2 separate regions of the Homo sapiens genome follow, and region 1 is linked to region 2. Evidence: fine-mapped expression QTL. Tissue or cell type: thyroid. Region 2 holds a variant in brackets; the other region holds the start of a gene. All regions are shown on one strand. Distances are from middle to middle.

Evidence for each region. PIP is the estimated chance that this variant, and not a neighbour inherited with it, causes the effect.
Region 1: TENM3 starts here. The variant in region 2 is fine-mapped to the expression of TENM3 in thyroid (GTEx, PIP 0.99).

The regions. Positions count from the first base shown.
Region 1 is chr4:182,237,009-182,247,822 of GRCh38, forward strand. It overlaps TENM3 (teneurin transmembrane protein 3), which reads left to right and starts at 6,394. Exons shown (of 28, transcript NM_001080477.4): 1 at 6,394-6,468.
Region 2 is chr4:182,504,829-182,515,642 of GRCh38, forward strand. All of the region lies in intron 3 of TENM3 (teneurin transmembrane protein 3), which reads left to right. Among named protein-coding and RNA genes, the nearest start is that of TENM3, 270 kb to the left of the region's middle. The variant T/C (reference allele first, on the strand shown) is at 4,899.

The DNA.
Region 1 (10,814 bases), 270 kb before region 2:
CAAGTCCCCATGTGTGTTGTTCCTGACCTGAAAATCCTTGTGTCCATGTGTTCTCATTGTTCAGCTCCCCCTTATAAGTGAGAACAGGCAGTGTTTGGTTTTTTGTTCCTGTGTTAGTTTGCTGAGGATAGTGGCGTCCAGCTCCATCCATGTTCCTGCAAAGGACATGATCTCGTTCCTTTTTATGGGTGCGTAGTATTCCATGGTGTATACGTACCACATTTTCTTTATCCAGTCTGTCATTGATGGGCATTTAGGTTGATTCCATGTCTTTGCTATTGTGAATAGTGCTGCAGTAAACATACATATGCATGTATCTTTATAACAGAATGATTTATATTCCTTTAAACCCAGACATTCTGTTTTCTTTTTTTTGAAACGGAGTCTCACTCTGTCGCCTAGGCTGGGGTGCAATGGTGCTATCTCGGCTCACTGTAACTTCTGCCTCCTGGGTTCAAGCAGTTCTCCCGCTTCAGCCTCCCATGTAGCTGAGACTACAGGCACCCATCATGCCTGGCTACGTCTGTAATCCCAGCACTTTGAGAGGCCGAGGCGGGCAGATCACCTGAGGTCAGGAGTTCAAGTCTAGAGATTCTTATAGCATCCTTTAGCCAAAATTCATTCGGAATTCTGGATCTTTTGGGGTCTTAGAAAAGTAATGTCGTGGCCGTATTGTCTGTTACACAGCAAAGTTAAGTCTGAGGCCATACCTGGCAATTAAACATGTTAACATTTCTTCCATAAAACTCATGAATATTCAAACTTATGGAGATAAAGAGGATAAGTCAGTACAGGTTAAGTTTTGTCACCAAATATATTTTCTTCATTCTGTTTTTATTGCTTTCTGCTTTCTGGGTTTTAGGATACATATAAGAGATTGTGGACCTGTAAAAGAATCCCAAAGGAATTTTGGAAAATTTTCAAGTCCAGCCTATGATATTTAGGCCAAGAAATGGCAAATATGTCTAGAAATAATAGCTACCACAACCAAAATATATAGGTTTCTTTTTTGTTTTCCATACACTAAGACTACAGGTGGCTTGGTTGACAGTGTTACTTTTAAATAAGATGAGACAATGAATAAATGAAGGAGTGAATGAATGTCAGGGTGAAGAAACAGTCTCAGGGTCTCATAAATAATGCCCTTCCCTTCCTCGTGTCTTGGCTGCTTTAGCCTCAGGATATGTGAGTCTGGGGTCGTCGGAAGCCTGGATCCTCCTCCAGCCATACTGCAACTGTCTATCAAAATGACTTCCCAAAAGTTTTCCAACAACTGAGTCATGGAGGAAGAGCTTTAAGAACTAAAACAAATAAAGCTCATTCCTTCCCCAAGGCCTTTGTAATTATTCTTCTCTCTGACCAGAACGTTTTCCCCCATGGCTGATTCCTTATCATCTTTTGGATCTCAGGCCAAATGCAACGCCCAGGGGAACCTGCCCTATCCACCCAGCCTCTATGCCCTTACTCTGCTGTGTGTCCTCATCACCCTCTGAAATTCTTGTGTTCACTCCCTTTTGATCGGAATCCTTCACTAGCAGGGGTGCTCTATTAGGGCAGAGCCTTTTTGTTCCGAGATGAGTCTCTTAGGACCTGGGGCAGTGACGGGCAGACAGCACTCAGTAAGTATGTATTGGGTGAATAAATAAGTGAAGGAATGTTTCCCTGACTGTCGGTGCTCAGTGAAGAGCTGACCTGTGCCTACGGACTGAATCATCTTTTCATTTGTAACTTTTAACTATTGTAATTCTAGATAATGGTGATGACTGTATTGTGAAAATTATTAAAAGTTTTATAAAAATACAAACACAAGTACCTTTTCTCCCTCTCTTTTTTAATTCAGTTACCTACCGCGGTGACTCATTCATACTAACATCTGAGTCTGTGTCAGAAACAAGCAAGAGAAAACAGAGGCAGAGATAAAGGACTGATATTATAATTTTTGAACAGCTCTTTCTTCTAGATAAATGTTCTTTATATAAAAAATAAAATCTCCCCAAGAATATTCTTAGACTTTAAAAATCTTTATGTGTGTGTGTGTGTGTGTGTGTGTGTGTGTGTGTGTGTGTATTTTTTTTTTTCTTTTTTTGAGACGGCGTCTCGCTGTGTCTCCCAGGCTGGAGTGCAATGGCACGATCTCGACTCACTGTAACCTCCGCCTCCTGAGTTCAAGTGATTCTCCTGTCTTAGCCTCCCGAGTAGCTGGGATTACAGGCGCCTGCCACCATATCTGCCTAATTTTTTGTATTTTTAGTAAAGATGAGGTTTCACCATGTTGGCCAGGCTGGTCTTGAATTATTGACCTCAAATGATCTGCCTGCCTCACCCTCCCAAAAGTACTGGGATTACAGGCATGAGCCACCGCGCCCGGCCAAAAATCTTGCTTATAGTCCCTTACAATATTGAAACTATTGCTTCTGCTCCTTTCATTGCTTAATTTATTGAATTCTTTCCATTATTAGTAAAATATATTTTGTTTCTAAAAGCTGGCAAGAAACTTACTAAAATACTACAGTCTAACATTTAGCATGCTGCAAAAACTTTGACATTGTCATACAAATAAGTGGATTCTTCAAGAGTTCAGGTTATCTTGCAGGAAAAAGATGATTTAGTTTTATAGAGTTTCCTTCTTGAAAGAGGTCTAGTTAGAAAAGATTTCAAACCAAATAGGGGCGGAGACAGGGTAGGGAGAAAATACCACTATGGATACTTCAAATGAAATAAGAAGGAAGGACAATAATATCTAATATTTGTTGCTTATAGTAATACTGTATCCCAAATAATCGCAAAAAAAGCTTTACTGGAAAAAAATCATTACACCTATCTGATTATAAAGAAGAAACAAAAATTGATTAGTAGTTTGCTATTTTCAAAGTGTAAAAATAGGGTAATTAATGCTAGATCATTTGACACTTTGGTTTTCTAAAATTAAACTTCTCAGAGAAATAGATTCAGGAAGAAATTTCACAAAACAACATTAATTAAAATGGCTGGGAAAAAAACAATACTGTAATAACAGTTGTAGAGTAGTGAAACTGGGGGAAAGTTAAGCAGCATTTTTTGCTTTGCTGATGACTGCAGTGGGGGAACTTCTATGGGGAGAAAAAGTGGATATTGGCTGTTGCCTTAATTAAACTCATGATTTATGAAGACCCTGGTTAGCCACAGCCACCCGGATATTTCAGAGCGAGAGTCAGAGCCTATTTAGTCTGTCACTGACTCTGAGTTTGGGAACCATAAATAGGCCTGCTTGTGTTGGGCTTGTCTTGTCATGGACGTCCACTGAGATCAACGGAATGCCAGAAGTGACCCAGCAAGTAGGAGAGAGACACGTTCCTACGAGAGACACAGAAGAGCGCTCCCCACATTCTTTAAATATTTTCTCCCGGCTATCATCATAACCTCTGTCTTATCGGGATTAATCTTTTTCTGGCTCACTTTGATCCCAGTCCCCTGTTAGGCTCCTCAGATGCTGAATACGTTGTGAAACTGTGGTGTCAGGATTAGAGATAAAAGGGGAGATGTAGACCATGTGTCATCAGCATGCTGATCTCAGAGTGAAAATGCCTGACTTTTCTTCAAGTTATCTTGCGTGCACTTTGAGCATGTGGGTGATTACCATCAGAGCCTGGCAATTCTCCCTGCGAGTCCCGGCCCTGCAGCCCACGAGAGCAGGGAAAGGCAGGATCTAGCAGGGTGTTCCTCATGGTGCCATTCCCCATGGACACAGCCTGGGAGGTCTTCTGTCCACCCAGAGAGCCTGGAGCAGGGAGACAGTAAGGGCCTGGGATGGAATGCAGCTCCAGAGGCTGCTGTTTTGCCTGTTTGTCATAGGATTACTGTATTACAGGGCTTTGAGACCAGCCTGCTATGTCCCCTCAGATCTGGCCTCTGAGGCCCCTGGGCAGGATGGCATTTTCACTGCCTCTCTTTCCCGCTCCACTGACCTTCACTCAGTATTTCCTCCTTCTCTGAAGCCCGCTTCTCATCACCACCTACAGCCTCAAGGATGCCTGCTTGCATCTTTGAGGCTTTTGTCATCGGGCTTGAAGATTTTTTTCCACATGGTCCCCTTAATCTGCTCCCATTCTTGACAGTTTAACACTCGTGCTGAAATTTCATTCCTTGCAGAGTTGGGATTTTCATGTGAATCGTTATAGCTTCTCTCTGGTTTACCATTGGCTTCCCAGAGCTCAGCTTCTGGGCACTTAATAAATGTTCATTTAATCAATTACTATCCCAATACTTTGTTCTCTTGTAACAACAGTTTTCACCTCCATTTCTGACAATGCTTTCTTCTGATTCATTCAATAATGAGAGGTCAACACACATGTTCTCTGTTTTTCTCTAACAAAAAAGACATGCCTTCATCCCTTCTTCTGTTCAGTGGTGCCCCCTCTACCTGGGCCCTGTGTGGCATTCCCCTCTGCTTCCTCTGGATCCTTGGCTCCATTAATTTTTTTCCACATTCTCCTATCTTCAGTCGCTTCCTTTTCCCTTTCTTTTTTCTTTCTTTTTTTTTTTTTTTTTGTGAGGCGGAGTCTTACTCTGTTGCTCTGTTGCTATGCTGCGATCTTGGCTCACTGCAACCTCCGCCTCTCAGGTTCAGGCCTCCTGCCTCAGCCTCCTGAGTAGCTGGGACTACAGGCATGTGCCACCATGCCCAGCTAATTTTTGTATTTTTAGTAGAGACGGGTTTTCCCATGTTGGTCAGGCTGGTCTTGAACTCCTGACCTCGTGATCCACCTGCCTCGGCCTCCCAAAGTGCTGGGATTACAGGCATGAGCCACTGGGCCCGGCTTTCCTTTTCCCTTTCTTTTTCCAGACAGGTAAAATGCACAAGGCTTGACCGTTCTTTTAAAAACGCTTCTCCACTGAAATGACTCTCCGTGGTCACAAATAACCTCTTTATTCCTGAAGCCAGTGGACCCTTTTCAGTTTTGCTCTCATCTGTTTTCTCCACTGTCAGCCACATGCCTTTTCCACCAATTTGCCTTCTTTTTTTTTTTCCTCTCTCTTTTTTTTTTTTTATTTTACTTTAAGTTCTAGGGTACATGTGCACAAGGTGCAGGTTTGTTACATATATATACATGTGCACAAGGTGCAGGTTTGTTACATATATATACATGTGCCATGTTGGTGTGCTGCACCCAATAACTCGTCATTTACATTAGGTATATCTCCTAATGCTATCCCTCCCCACTTCCCCCACCCCATGACAGGCCCCGGTGTGTAATGTTCCCCTTCCTGTGTCCAAGTGTTCTCATTGTTCAGTTCCCACCTATGAGTGAGAACATGCGGTGTTTGTTTTTTTTTCCTTGCAATAGTTTGCTGAGAATGATGGTTTCCAGCTTCATCCACATCCCTACAAAGGACATGAACTCATCCTTTTTTATGACTGCATAGTATTCCATGGTGTATATGTGCCACATTTTCTTAATCCAGTCAATTTGCCTTCTTAAAACTTCTTGGTGGCCCAGCACGGTGGCTCATGCTTATAACCCCAGCCCTTTGGGAGGCTGAGGTGGGTGAATTGCTTGAGCCCAGGAGTTTGAGACCAGCCTGGGCAACATGGTGAAAACCCGTCTCTACAAAAAATACAAAAATTAACCCGATGTGGTGGCACTTGCCTGTGGTTCCAGCTACCTGGGAGACTGAGGTGGGAGAATCACCTGAGCCTGGGAAGTCGAGGTTGCATTGAGCTGAGATTGCGCCAGTGCACTCCAGCCTGGGTGACAGACTGAGGCCCTGTCTCAAACAATAAAACTTACTGGTTTTCCTGCCTGATTGCTTTCTCTGAACTGTACCCTAGATCTTCCTACCGTGGTGGTTCAGATGAGAGATGATGGTAGCCTGTATGTGGGTAGTGCTTATCAGAGATGGAAATAAAATTGACAAGAGTTGATAATGTATTAGAAGCGGAGGCTAAGAGAGAGGTAAGCAAGATAATCACTAGGTTTCTGACTTGCATAATTGGGCGGTGATGTCATTCACTGAGATTAGAAGCATTCCAGGGCGACTATGTGGTAGAGAGGCTACAATGAATTCAACTTTAGATGTATTGGAGATGTGTTTAGAATGTCTTAAGGGTAAATGTCACATAGGCTTTTATTTATTTATTTATTTGAGACAGAGTTTCGCTCTTGTCGCTCAGGCTGGAGTGCAGTTGGGTGATCTTGGCGCATTGAGACTTCCACCTCCCGGGTTCAAGCAATTCCCCTGCCTCAGCCTCCTGAGTAGCTGGGATTACAGGCATGCACCACCACGCCCAGATAATTTTTGTATTTTTAGTAGAGGCGGGGTTTCACCATGTTGGCCAGGCTGGTCATGATTTCCTGACCTCAAGTGATCCGCCCACCTCGGCCTCTCAAAGTGCTGTGATTACAGGCATGAGCCATCGCACCTGGCCATGAAGGCTTTTAGATGGGTCTGGAGCTTGGAGGAGAAGTCTGAACTAAGGATAAACTAAAGGTAAGTTGCTGAGTCATCTGTAGAGAGGTGGGAATTGAGGGCACGGATGAGACAGCCTAGAAGAAAAGGAGGAGAAGATGAGAAGAGAGTATCGAGGTATTGGAAACTGGGGAGGGCAGACAAGTCTAAAAAGGAGACTGGAAAAAAGTAGTTGAAGATGGAGAGGGCAAATCTGGGCAGTGTTGGGACACGGAAGCTGAGGAAAAGAGCAGTTCAAGATGCTTGAAATGAACACACCAAAAATACTGTGAACTATTCAGCACGTCCTTGTTTTATAAGTAAAATTCATAGTCACATCAGCGAAATAATTTTAAATGTATGTCTGTTGACTTAAATATTGGTTTTCTTTTGTGACTGAGGTTCCAGTACTTAGGAAAGGAAATGAAAGAGAGGCAGGGCACTCAGGGCTGACTGTCTTCTCAAAGTGCTAACTGATAGACTCTTCCAAGAATGGAATCATTTGTGTTTTCTTTTTTTTTTTTTTTTTTTTTTTTTGAGACGGAATCTCGCTCTGTCGCCCAGGCTGGAGTGCAGTGGCGTGACCTCGGCTCACTGCAAGCTCCGCCTCCCGGGTTCACGCCATTCTCCTGCCTCAGCCTCCCGAGTAGCTGGGACTACAGGCGCCCGCCACCACGCCCGGCTAATTTTTTGTATTTTTAGTAGAGACGGGGTTTCACCATTTTAGCCGGGATGGTCTCGATCTCCTGACCTCGTGATCCGCCCGCCTCGGCCTCCCAAAGTGCTGGGATTACAGGCGTGAGCCACCGCGCCCGGCCTCATTTGTGTTTTCTATTAAAACATATAACCCAGGGTATTAGACCACCATGGTGGTCACGGCGATCACAAAATATTTTTAACTGGTTTGCTGTGAGCTGATTTAGTGTTCTGAAATTTTATTATCTTGACTGGTAGAATTATTGGAACCAGCCATACATGTTAGAGTGATTGACAGCTACTTCTGATGAGGCTTTTATTGGATCTCAGGCAGCCTGCAAGTCACTGTCCTTTGCATTCAGATGCATTTATTTCCACAGCCTCCAGGGTAGCTAATGTTATTTTTCCTTCCCATTCCGAAATTTTAAGATGCCTCAGCTTTAGCCTGGCTCCTAAACTGATGGACAAGAGGAGAATATGAAGAGGAAGACGGGTCTCCTGGAATCCTCAGTTCCCAGGCTCTTCCCTCCAGTGGTCCAGGAACACTTTTGTCCCTGTCATAGATTTGTGTAATTCTCATGATGTGTAACATATGGAAAGAAAAACCAAGTTTTGTGTAGCCTAATAGATAGCTGTTTAGGAAACCATTCCAACTGTCCAGCTTTCTGAGAGTTTGCAAATATCACTTTACTTCTTACATTAATAGAGCCTCATGCAAATCAAATCATGTTGAACTTTATTAGCTATGCTTGATGTTATTTATGTTCTAATTAAATTAATGAGAATCTTGCATTTCTTCACAAAATTAAATTTCTAGAGTCTCTTTTTATTGTAATGTCTACATTCCATAATCAATGAATGCTTTTAATCCTCTGCAGTGATACTTTCTAGTGTTTTGGGAATGAAGCAAAGGCTTCAGAAACATTCAAAACAATCGAGTGTTAGGCTGTGCTATTGTTTGTTTAATGGGCAGAGGTCACTTGCTATGGGAATACTGAGGGTCTGCATGCTGGAATCATTCTCTTTTTGCCCAGGATGGGATCATTGGGTGAGTTTACTTAATCCATGGGCTTTGTTTCCCAAGACTGTGTCAGGGAACAAGACACAATTGTTTCCAGCCCCAGAGTCCTCTTGAGAGAGTGGCTCCAGCAACTTTGCTCTGTCTCATGTGATGTAGCATCCTCCGGCATCATTTAGAAAAGTGAAAGAGCAAGTAGAAAGGAATCTATCTGATCTTCATTTCTTTGCTGTTGTTGTTGATTTGTGTCACACATTGCTTCTCAGGTGGCCCCAAGAGTAAATCAGAAATTCCAATTGAGATTGCAAATTTTGTTTTAATTCTCTGTTGCTTTTCCAGCAATCAGTGCTTTCCTTTAAATTCTGTCTCGTCTCCTAAATGAAGGCAGCGTCGTGGCCCAGTTTGGGTCTCTGTTTAGCAACTGTGGTCTGTTTGAACTGAGGCAGTCCACATGTTACTTCCATTCTTTAGATTAATGTGATGACCGTAGTCCCTGCCAGAATCTTTTGGAACCAGTTATCCCAGGATATTGACATGTGACACGGCCATAGGACTGAAAACTTCCTCTCTTCCAGGGCCAGCCACAGGAGAGAGAAAGGGATTAAGAGGCTACTGTTGTGTCAATGCTGCAACTTGCTTTAGGACTCTGAGCTGGTTTCTTAACTTTTCCGTTGATGAGCAATAAAACCAGTAGAACAATAACTGCCTTCAGTGATTTTACAGATTTGTGTTAGTTAATAAATATAGGAATTTAGGGAAAGCTGTTTCTGATTTATATTTGATACCGATGTAACATTTTATTGGCGGGCGCTCCTGCTGGATCCTCACTCTGTGGTTAACAGTGACTCCTTTTCTGGTAGCACTCCCTGGCTCTGCAAGTCACGGGAAATAGCGTAAGAGCTCACTTGTCTCTTATGTTGAACAAACAGAGGCAGCAACCGCTATGGCAGAGGGTGGCACCTTCTGGCTATGTGTTTTCCTAAGTGGCCTGAAATGAAACTCCTAGAAGTTGTCTCATTGATAAAATGAATGCAATCTAGGTACCACTAATTATCTAACCCCGGGTCATCAGCAGGATTTACCACCACTGCCAGCAGCCCCAAGGCATAGGGGAAGAAAGAATTTTTTAAAAAGAAGTCATGGAAGCAACACAGAGAGAAAAACAAAGCAGCGCTTATGAATGAGATTCGCTATGAGCCCCCACCCCCGCCCCTCAGGAATAACATTTTAGATAAGCAGTGGACACGAAGCAGGCCCCGCTCTGAAAGAGCACAGGAGGTAGAAATGTCTTCCTTTTCTAGGATATAGATGGTGTGGGTATCAAAGCCATTGTTGACAGGAAGGAGGTGGTGTTGGATAAGAGACTAAAAATAGAGCCGGAGTAGTAGTTTGAATCCAGCAAACCAGCCCTCCTTCTAAAATTCTGCAGCACGATCCCATCACGTAAGAATGTGTCTCGTCCGTATGTGACAAAGACACGGTTTTATTGACCTTAAACAAATGGGCTATGTCTGCCAGAAAAGCTTGTGCCGTCTTGACTGTATTCATAAGAAATAGAGAGATATGAATCATGCCATGTAGGTTCCAGGGCGGGGGCGTTCCCTCCCTCTCGTCCTTCGCTTTGCCTTGCATTATTGCAGACGACAGCAGTGCAGGGATGAACTCACTTTCTAGGGAGGAAGCCGCCAGTAAATAACTAAACAAAGAAGATAAGTTCCGATAATCATCGCTGTTAAACTGAGACTAAAACGAGAGATGAGGTAGTGACTGGGAGTGGAGGGGAAGTTGATTGAGGTGGATCACGAGGGATGCCTCTCTGCGGAGGCGATGCCCACATCGAAGCTCTCAGGATGAGACGGAACCAGCCGTGTGGGCAGCTGTGGGAGGACGCAGAGATGGGCAAATGTAAAGATGCGAAGAACACCAGAAATGGTGTTTTTGAAGGACAGAAAAATATGAGTCGAGCTAGAATCTAATGAGCAAAGAGAAACGAGTTAGATGTGATTTTGGAAAGGGAAGGCAATGTGTTTCTCTGTGTGCTGATCAGTCCTGAGGTGCTGCAGCAAGAAATTGACATATAGAGGTGGATACCAGAATGGTGAGGAGTTTGGAAGAAAAACCCTATGAAGAGCGCAGTCGGAACTGGGGGTTGGTTGTCTTACGAAGAGAAGACTGGAGAGAGAGCCATGATAAATGTCTGATTATTTGAGATGTGATCTACTGGAAGCATTACACAGATGATGGTTCCATAGAGTGGCCCTCAGACCATTGAAAGGGGCCATGGCTAAGGCAGAACTCACCCGCCTTAGAAGGAAGCACTTTAACCCTTGACCTCATCCATCCAAAAATGGAACGAGCAGCTTCACAAAGCTGCGCTGTTAGTTTCTAGTCACAAAGTGTTGTTAGGCAAGGACAGCTTTAATTTACTAGATTTTAAGATTTTTCAGGCCAGTGACTTTGTTTTCTGTCCATGTTATATCTCTGGCAAGTACCTGCGGGTGGATGCTCAGTCAGTGTTTACTGAAATGACAAATAAGTAAATCGCAGTAGCAACTGGACCAAGGATGGCTCAGGCAACCTCTCAGATTATACCTAATTCTAGGATTTTATAATTCTGTGATATGAGTAAAAGCAGAATTATTTTCAATACTTAACAAAATTTTATTGGGAAAAA
Region 2 (10,814 bases):
TTGTTTCAGTAAATTGTTCTGCATTGTTTACTGCCCTCACTACTTATTATCTCCCCAGCCCAGGTCATAATACAACAGATACTTGGGTATCATGATGTTATATATTCTTTTCCAACTCAGCATGGTGATATTGGGAGGGTGATCTTATTCCTGTTTTTCATATGGGAGATTGATGAAACTTGTTTTTCATTTTTTATTACATCATAATACTTATTTGCTGACAAACTCATCAGGACTCTGAGGGAGCCATAAATTTGTATCAGTATAATCAATATTGATGGAAACACTTTGAAACTCCTCCTGTAGAATTAGAGTCAGCTTACAAGCCACATTACAATGGTCTTATGATTATATACCAGACTCTTAGTTCTATGTTAATTTAGTATGAATGTCTATATACCCTAGCATTTTTTTACTCCAAATAATGTTTATTTCCCAAAATAAATTTCATTCTGCAAAGATGAAAATCTGTATCACACCTAAAATTGTGCAATACAGATCTTAAAACTGCCAGATAGCATTCCAAAGTGCTTACTTTGGAAGGAAAATAATTAAATGTCTAAATTATTATACATTTTTTTAAAGATTTCTTTATTGCTGTAATTCTTACTGCTTCCTCTGCTTTTCCTTTTATTTTATTTTATTTTACTATTACTATTATTTTTTTGAGACAGAGTTTCACCCTTATTGCCCAGGCTGGAGTGCAATGGCGCAACCTCAGCTCACTGCAACCTCCACCTCCCAGGTTCAAGCGATTCTCCTGCCTCAGCCTCCCGAGTAGCTGGGATTACAGGCACCCACTACCACGCCCGGCTATTTTTTTTTATTTTCAGTAGAGACGGGGTTTCACCATGTTGGCCAGGCTGGTCTCAAACTCTTGGCCTTCCAAGGTGCTGGGATTACAGGCGTGAGCCACCACACCCGGCCTGCTTTTCTTTTTCAAACCCAAATCTTAGATTCAGTTTCCTCATGACATTGTCACCACCTTGATATAAATCATTCCTTTGTTGACATTGTCATCATGTGCTTACTGAAACATGCCCTACATAACAAGGTAGAAAGAGACAGGCTTCGGATTTCTTCCTGTTAAAGCAAAGCATTAATTTTCTCTAAGGAAAGGTAGATGTTGAGTGTGAAATAAACTTAAAAGAGGATGCATCACATATAAAATCCCAGAATGTTACAAGTGGAGGGGACCTAAGATGATTGCAAATAAAGATAAATGCAACAGCTGTGGTCTAGAAGGAGGCACAAATTATTAAGAGCTCAGCAAGACGGAGTCAAGGAAAAATTCTGACTGAGCATGAACAGTGTGTTGCTTAATAGTTACTTACCATCGGCTTCACTTTAGCCCTGTGCATATGACCCCGAAACCATGTTTATAATGTGTAAGCCCCTTTGATTGTTTTTGTTTTTGTTCTGAAGACGCTTGCTACTTTTGAAATGTTTTCCATATTTAGAGATAATACGGTGTGGTCGAAAGAGGGCATATTTTGGAGTCAGAAAACTTGAAGTTCAATCTTGTCATTACCTTAAGCTAAATTTCTCCATCTGTAAAATGGGAGTAGTAACATTTAAATAACGATTAAATAATAAGGAGAAGTAACGTAGGAAGAGATTCAAGCACTGGCCTGGCACATGGTGCTTAAAAAGTGTCTTGCTCTTTCTCTCTCCCTTCTTTATTATTTAATAAAATTTGTCTGGTATGTGTATTATAATTTGTACATCTTGATCTTATATACTGTATTAAAATTAAAAAATAGTCAAAAGCTGAATGCCTGGTCTCAAATATTTTAAATTCTGGTTGGGATGTAACATAAGTACATGTACTCCAAATATATTTACAGAGTAGGTTTTATTAAATGAACTAATAGATATTGTACATAAAAGATTAAAGTGAAAGAATGATCAGGTTGTAAGGAGTATGGAGTAGGTGAACTTGGCGCTGTATACGAAAACCTTCCATGGAAGAGCTCGAGACATCTTTTTGAACTTCCTTAACTCTGTTTTGATAGTACTTAAACGGTCAATTCGATGGTTCTTCATACCTTAAAGATCACTGGCCTTTATTATCCTGATAGTAGTGAATATAAGCATGTTAAGGTTATCTTATCTGTGTTTAATCTTCATAGGCACATACTATGGAACATCTTTATCTGTCATATTCATGATCCGTGAAGCCTCTTTTGAAGTCAGGTTGCATACTGCAAAAAAGTAGAGCTCTAAAGTAGGTCACAGTCCTAAGAGAGACACTGGAATCAACATCTGAAATTGAAAAGCTATTCTCCATTCGTATTAAGTTTTTAGGTTATCACTAAGGAAAAAAAAAGCACACTAAAATTAGATGAAGTAAAAGAAGCCCGAGTTATTCAAAATGTAAAGACCTTAGAATGAATGCTAACATTTTTCTTTTGCCCTTTTTCTTCCATCATTATGTCTAAAGATTGAAGTTAGTCTAAATAACATTAGGTCCCATAATCTCTGAGAATTTACCAGCTTTACTGTTTTCTTTTTCTTTCTGTTCCAAGTACATCTGCCCTTATGCCATTACTCTTGTCAGAAACTCATTGCCAAGTGTCTTTAAAAATCAGTTACTGTGGAGTTACCTATTTCAAAACAGAACTAACCCCTCAGTTTGATTTTTCAGGAGTCATTCTTTCATAGGCAATTCCGTCAGAATTTTTTTTATATAAATCAGTGTGAAAGCATTGGATTTTCTTAATACAGTCTTGTCCAGGAAGCTGTTAAAGCTTTTTCCCCATTGAAGAGAGAACACTAAATTGTCAGTATGTACTCATTCTATGGGAGAAGTTTTGAAAGCAGAGGTTTATAAATTTTCAACTTAGAGAACGAGATTCTTTGCAAAAGATTTGGTCAAATATCTGGAAGTCTTCCACTTTTGAAATACAGGGCTTCCAAACACATTTCTTCAAATGTCTTCTATATAGTTACTGTCTTTTATTTTGGCAAGTTATGCCAAAGAGACGAAATAGATCTTAGAGACCTTAGAATATTAATATCCTTAGGTTACATTCTTATAGAGTATCCACTAATTATTTCACATACTTAAGTGATGAATATATTAGTATCTTAAATTCTAGTTTGGTCATAGAGATTTGTGCTTTCATGGGTCCTGGAGCAGATGGTTGCTGTCCCCCGAGTGGTTCATACTCAGGCTCTGGTATCAGGTTTCCTGGGATGGAATCCTAGTTCTGTCACTAACTAACTGGGTGGACTGAAACAGTTCATTTAACCCTGATAGGCCTCGTCTTTGTAAAATGGGGATAAATACTACCTATCTTGTTGAGCTGTTATAAGGATGAGACATACCACATGTAATATTGACAATGCCTGGCTCACAGTAAATGCTCCATAAATGTTAGCCATCATTATTGTTGTTATTGATGATGGTTTTTGGAAGGCTCACTTGAATTTTCTCAGTTATAAATATTGTGTAGGGCAAGGTCTGTGAACCTTGGTTTCATTAAAGTAACTATTCCTATAAGAGTATGCTCCGCTGTGATTATGGTTGTATAAATCTCATTTGGCAATTGAGTACCAATAATACGATAGTCATAGATTAGGTATAACTATCTAAATTGAACTGCTGTCAACAACTACTGAAAGAGCATTTTGCAATAATTATCACTATCATCATTATTTCAACTTCATGAAATCCATGAAATATTTATCTTTCCTTATATCTAATCAGAATGATATACTCTTAGATATCACATAGGTGAGTAATAAATGATAGAATGGGGTCCCTTTCTTCTGATAGATGCATATTAGTATATTCTGATATAATGATATGCAGGGTACTAATTAGTGTGCAATTAACTGTCAGACTTTGTGCAATTGAGTGAGAAAGATTTTGTGCAGTTAAATAAATGATGAAATGGGTCCTTTCTTCTTTCCTTTGAATCACAGTGACAACCTAACTTAGACTTTCAATTAAGCTTTCCAGCTTCCTACCTGTGTTCTTGTATTGGTTTCTTAGGCAGGAATATTTTCTCTGCATGGACAGAAACAGTTGATAAACTCAACTCCAACAGAGAAATAAATTACATGCCAGCTATAATGAGATATGAACGTCCAGTAAATTTTCTTTTGCATGTAAAAATGTGGCAGTATGAAGTAAGAGTCAATAATTATTTATTGTTAATTCCCTAATGTTTGCTTCTGATGCACATGTAAATTGTGATGTGACTAAATTGAATGGAATTATCCGTTATTTTTAACATATTCACTCTAATGCACATGGATGAAAATGACTGTGATAATCTAGCAGGGATCCTTTGTGTTTTGGTGAAGCATGTAGGTCCGCATCCTGCAGTCTAGTATAAATGGATTTCAAACCGAATTTAATGAAAATTACCTTTGCTGACAGTGAGCCTGAGACACAGATGGTCACTGTATCCTCAGATGTGTTTAACTCCATTTCAGTGGGGCCACCTTTGTTGTTTATAACTTCTAGGTATAGATTCTTGTGGGAGTTCCAAGATTTGTTTTAAGCAGTTTTTCCTTTCTTAACAAAAATAGTAAGCACCATATAATGCTTGCTTCGTTTCAGTGATATTTTTTCATTCTTCACTCTCTCTTGCACATTTATTTGATGCTCAAGTGATGATATACAAATCACTGAGAATATTATTTCCTAGTTTTCTGGAATATTAGAAGGACAATATTACATAGAATTTTACTTTCACATATATAATTATTTCAATAATGTTGCCAGAAGAATTGAGTATCTCTTCTGAACAAATGCCGTGTCTAAGAACAAGAAGGATAGAATTAAATCAATGAGGGGATGGAAAGTAAAAAATGGGTCAGACGCAGTGGCTCACACCTGTAATCCCAGCACTTTGGGAGGCCAAGACAGGCGGATCACCTGAAGT[T/C]GGGAGTTCAAGACCAGCCTGACCAACATAGAGAAACCCCATCTCTACTAAAAATACAAAACTAGCTGGGGGTGGTGGCGCATGCCTGTAATCCCAGCTACTTGGGAGGCTGAGGCAAAAGAATCACTTGAACCCAGGAGGCAGAGGTTGCCATGAGCCGAGACTGCGCCATTGCACTCCAACCTGGACAACAAGAGCAAAACTCTGTCTCAAAAAAAAAAAAAAAAAAAAATGTAGGGAGATACAGGTATATTGTTTGTAATTCAGATCTAAGATTATTTCTGAACCTGAACCAGAAGATAGACATTTGAAACAGAAATTCACACTGTCAGTTAAGATCTTAGTTGTGTTTTTGCCAAATACTGTAAGATTAAAACAAATTCTCCACCAAGTTTTAGCCTCCAGTTTACTGCTACCACCATAGTTCAGTCCCTTCAGTTGGATTATTTTTGTTTTGTTTTCTAATAAAATGGCCAGATTAATCTAGTTTACATTGCTTTATCAATCACTGTGTTTCTTAGAAAACTACAAAAGTATCCTCATTTCCTCTCCATCAGTACTACCTGTTTTCTTCTGCGCAAGCCTTTTTTGCTCTAGCTCGCCTCTAGCCCTCTAGCCTTATTTTCTCTACTCTGAAGACAAACCCCTTGGCTTTGGTTAGCTCCTTTACAATGTGATTATGTCATGTCCCACTTGCCTAAAAGACTTCTCACTATAATCCTTAGTTTTGAAATCCTCTTTATCTTTTAAGGGTTAACCTCTAGAATTGATTAATTTTCTAGTTATTCCAGTTCTGATTGGCAATTCTATGCTGTTAAGTTCTCTTATACATACATGTAGCATTTAATTATATTATGGATAATGTGAATCTTACAATCAATGACATTTCCCTATTTGTCCTTACCACTAGGAAGTGCAGGGCTGAGTTATCGGCCAGTCTTTAGTTACTGTAGAGAATCTTCGACATGTATTTCTGCCTATGAACTTCCCCTATAGCATTGTCTTAACCATAAAGCTTCTTTTTTGCAACATTTTTTTCTAATGTTATAATCTTATTATATATTCTATCTTCTTGTAAGCCACATCAAATCCTTATTAGGAGAGGCAGTCTTCCATGGGATCTGAGCGCATCCTGCACACCCTTGCTGGCCTTGCCAAAAATGTAAGTCCCTGACTGCTCTTTACCCAGGAGATTTCTCAGGATGGTTTGTAGCAAGAAACCTTGAGAGATGAGGCATTAGCCAAGAGCAGGCTTGTTACTACTTACTGTCAAACAGTGGATTCCCCAAGCTCAGTGTTCCTCAGCTGTGACAAGCCCATTGTGTGCATAGCATCCATTTGGGCCTGCCAGAGTTGGGGAACAAAGGGACCAACGTACAATCCAATACTCATGCTGCTTGCTGTGCTATGCCATGAGTTTTTGCCCCTTACCCAGGAGTTTTGTGTCACCATTTATGACAGCAGGAGGCTGTAGTAGGCTGTAATTAGGATAAAATCAAATACTATACTAATACTCATTTATGGAAGATAGAAACTGTTCCATAAATTAATAAAAATAAACGTGTTTTGAGCCTTTCAAACCAACCCACTGTGCATATCACTATCCTGAACATGCTGAACATGTAATTAGATGTCAGTGTATACTTATTATGCTTTGAAGAACTTAGCTTTTATGGAATCATGGCAGCTGCAAGAGTAATTAAATTGATAATTTCTTGGAATTATGTTGAGAAGACTTAAGATATTAAAACTGGCTGGATTTGTCTGCTTCAACTAAAAAGATGAATAGAGAATATGTTTAACTTCACCTTGCCTCTGAGAGGTTTCTGAAGAGAACTTCAGTGTAAAATTTAGTGTCTTATTTAGTTATCTACCTTAGTCTGTGTTCTCTCTCCTTTCATCAGTTGTGTTGCTTTTTTCCATTTTTAAATTTCATTCTCACTGGAATTTTGAGAATGTAGCATTTGTAAATGTGAAGAAAAATCAGTAACATAATTTTCAATTTGTTTAGGTTTTTTAAAACTATGGCCTTAAAAGATAAAATTAGGATCATATAAATAAATGACATATGACCTCTGAAGGACTGGGTAGAAAAAAATTAATATTTATTGATTAACTAGCAAGTGCTAAGTTCTTTTAAGGTGCTTTACATGTATTATATCATTAAATCTGCCAATAATCTAAGAGTTAAGTATTATTAAAAGAATAAACTAGACTATTAGAAAATGACACTAATTAGATTTAGGTAACTAGCCCAAGTTCATACTGTAAGTAGCAAAAGAAGACTCTACCCAGGTAGATCAGACATTCTCATCAAAGGCATGGTTCTTAACCAGGAACTCTCATCTCCTGGGATAGTGAAAGTAAAGGAGGATGTGGAAGAGACTATTTCATATTACCAGAACCTATTTTTCTGTCTTCCTTGATAAGGCTACATTTCCCAGCCCTCCCCACTCCCTTGCACGTAGGTATGGACATGTGGCTAGTTCTCTACAATGGAATGTGAATGGAAGTGAGGTACCAGGCCGAAAATGGGCCTTCTCCATGGTCTCTTTTTATTTGCTAAACGGTAAAAGCAAAGGACCTCAGGGACCGTAGAAGATGACAGAGTCACCAGATGGGAAGAGCCCACGTCTGAGTTACCACGTGGAAAGTTGTCCCATTGAACACCAGCATTAGACTAAGGTTAGAATGAGAAAGAAAAGCTTTTGTCATGTTACATCACTAATATTTCAGGGTTTATTTATTAAAACAGCTCACATTACCTTACCAAAATAGATGGGTATGATCAAATGTCACTACTAGGAGCATTAGAGGATTTTAAATATTTGATGAAATCATTATGACATTAGTTATTTTTGAGACTTCTAAAACATTTGATTATTACCTTGAATATATGAACGAAAAGTATTGTAATTGCTTTATAAGAAGAAAAAACACTCTGAAAATAAGAGCATATTGGGAGTGATATCCAGATAGTCGTGACCTGGTCCTTGAACTGCCTCTGTTTAATCTGGGGCAAATGACTTAATCCCTCTGAGCCTCCCTCTCCTAATGTGTAACATGAAACAATCTAACCTCTTTAGGGTGGCAGTAAAATTGCTATAGGCTAAGAGTATACAGAAACACAGTAGTTTGTATACTCCTTGAAGATCAAAATAGTGTCCAGTTTATACGTCTATACTGGTACTGTTTTAGCACATAAGAAGTGTCAGTAAATATTGAATGAATTTTTGGTGGAATAGGACATGATATCCTTTTAGAAAACGTTTTGGCATTTTGAGTCAAAAGCCATAAATATATATATTCTTGTTGTCCCAGTATTAATGCTTAGGATATTTATGAATAATCCATGGGAAGGAAGAAGTGAGGATAGGATAGGGTTGCAGAAGCCTCATTTCAACCTTTGGAAATAGTCTCAGTGTTTAACTACAGTGGAGTAATTTGGTAAATTTTCATAAACTTCACTTGCTGCAAAGTTTTCCTGCTATTAAAAGGCAAGTAAGAAAAACCATATTCGTACGGTGAAAGTTTATACTAGAAAACTATCAGAAGCATAAAATACAAAACAGCTACATCTTTACTAAAAGCCTGGAAAAATTAAATGTATACTCAGTAAAGAATTAGAAGGAAACATACATAGAAAATGGAAAACAGTTTGATATATTAGTGATAGGATTATGGAATTATTTTTTTCTTTCAGTTGCATTTGCAAACAAGATGGGAGAAGAAGCTGGAAAAGAACATAGGCTACCTATTTAAAGATCCTGAATGAAAAAAAAAAAAACCTTTGTGTTTCATTTTGTAAGGTTTTTAAAAAATAGATCTGGGATTAAATCTGGCTTTTAGAAAGATAATTTGTAGTAAGAGAGTTAGTAATAGGGAGATGGATTAGAATATTACTGCAATAATTCAGGTGACAGATGTGGAGGAACTGTGTTTCTTATTTCCTGCGTTTTGTTGCTGTGACATCTGGGGCCTTGCTGACCCTGGAGGGACTGCCCCTCCTAGTGTTTGCCAGTTCTAGAGATAATAAATAACTCGCCCACAAGTGCACTTTTCCAAAACAAATGAATCAACCCAGAGCGCACACCTCAACCATCTCCTTTAGTGGGCTTTCACACTCTGGTCCATTATCCACCTGCCCTGATCACCCCAGGGCCAGGTACAGAGAGCTCTTGTGCCTCAGAGCCAATTGAAAATATCTAAACTACCAATCCTAATGCTTTTTACTCTGTTTTGCCCATTTCTTCCCAAGGAAACCACAATAAAGGCTTGTTTAGGGTTTCCCCTCTCTCCCTCTGCCTCCTAACCAACCCTGATGCTTCTTTTTGTGGCCCTGTTGGGGCGGCATGCCCCCTCCTCTTGGGAACCGTGAGTAACAAGCTGTATTGTCAGTGGCAGTCACCTTCTACTCTGCTGGCCTTACTACACCTCAGAGCTTCCACTAGTACACTATATTTTTAAACTAAATGTTGTGCGCCTAAATGAAAGCAGTGAAAATGGGGATGAGGAGAAACATTCAGAGATGTGTAGGAGTGAGAATTACAGGTTTTTGATGGTGTTAGGATATGAAGAGTAGGGAAATGGAAGGAGCAGATGACTACTGACAGATTTCTAGCTTGACAGTATTAACTGTGAGAAAACAGACTAAGAAAAAGAGGTTTCAAAGGGGAAAGATAATAAATTCGATTTGGAACCTGCAGAGTTTAGGTGCCTGAAAGACATCCATGTAGAAATATCTAGTGAGCAGTTATGAAGATGTGTCCTGAACAGTGGTTTTGAAACTTTTATGACTATGAAACACAGCAACAAGTCCATTTTACATCCGGCCCTATATGAAGATATGATTTCATATTTCACAGAACAATACGCCTTTCTTAGTGTGATGTAGTCTGATAGTTTCTGTCTGTGCCATTCATTTTGTTTCATTTTTTGTGTGTGCTGTAAGCCACTAAATTGAGTTCATGAACTACTAAAAGGGCACAACTCACTCTTTGGAAAACACTGATCTGGAGCATTAAAAAAAAACTCAGACTTGGAGAGATTTAGAAGTCATAAATATACAGATGTTAGTTTAAGCTATGGGATATTTTCTAGGGGCTGAGATGCAGATCAAGAAAATTGCCCAGATTATTGCTCCATAGAATACCAAGCATTTAAAATTTTTAAAGCTTACAGAGAGAGAGGAAGCAGCAAGAGAGAGTGAGAAACAATAGTACATCCTAATAGTAGACTCAGTCAATTAATATTGAGAAACCAAGAAAGGAGAACATTTCAAAGAGGGAATAATCAGCAGTGTCAAATGCCAATAATGCACAATAATTTTTTATCCAGACTAAGAAGACAATTTATCATTTAAGCCGTCACTGATGATAAGTGAAAAAGCAATTTCAGTAGTGTTCTGGGGGAGAATAGGTTGCAATGGGTGGGAAAAATGAATCGGAAGTGAGGAAAGTGAGGCAAAGAAGTTAGACTGCTTTTTCAGAGAGTTTGGCCTTAAAGGGAAAATATATTGATGTGGGTGACAGTCACTAAGTGAGGCGCAGAAAAAATCCAAGTGAAAACTTTGGAACAGGGTGGTTTGTCAAGGATGCATGTTAAAGACAGAATAATTGTTTGCTGAATTTTTTTGAAAAAAATAGATGAGAGTGATGAACAGGTGGAAAAACAGTAGGAACAATTAAAATAAGATTACAGCCATTTCAGTTATTTAGCTTAGAAATGGACAGCCTAGAAACTGATAGCAAGAATCATCTAATAACTGTAGCCCTAGATTAGAAAGATGAAAAAGTAGTCTGTTGTATATATATATGAATACATAAATGTATGTACATATGTACACAATATGTATTTTATTAATTACTGTATATAATATTTCTTAGGTGTAAATTAGTTTGGAGAGACTTAATATCA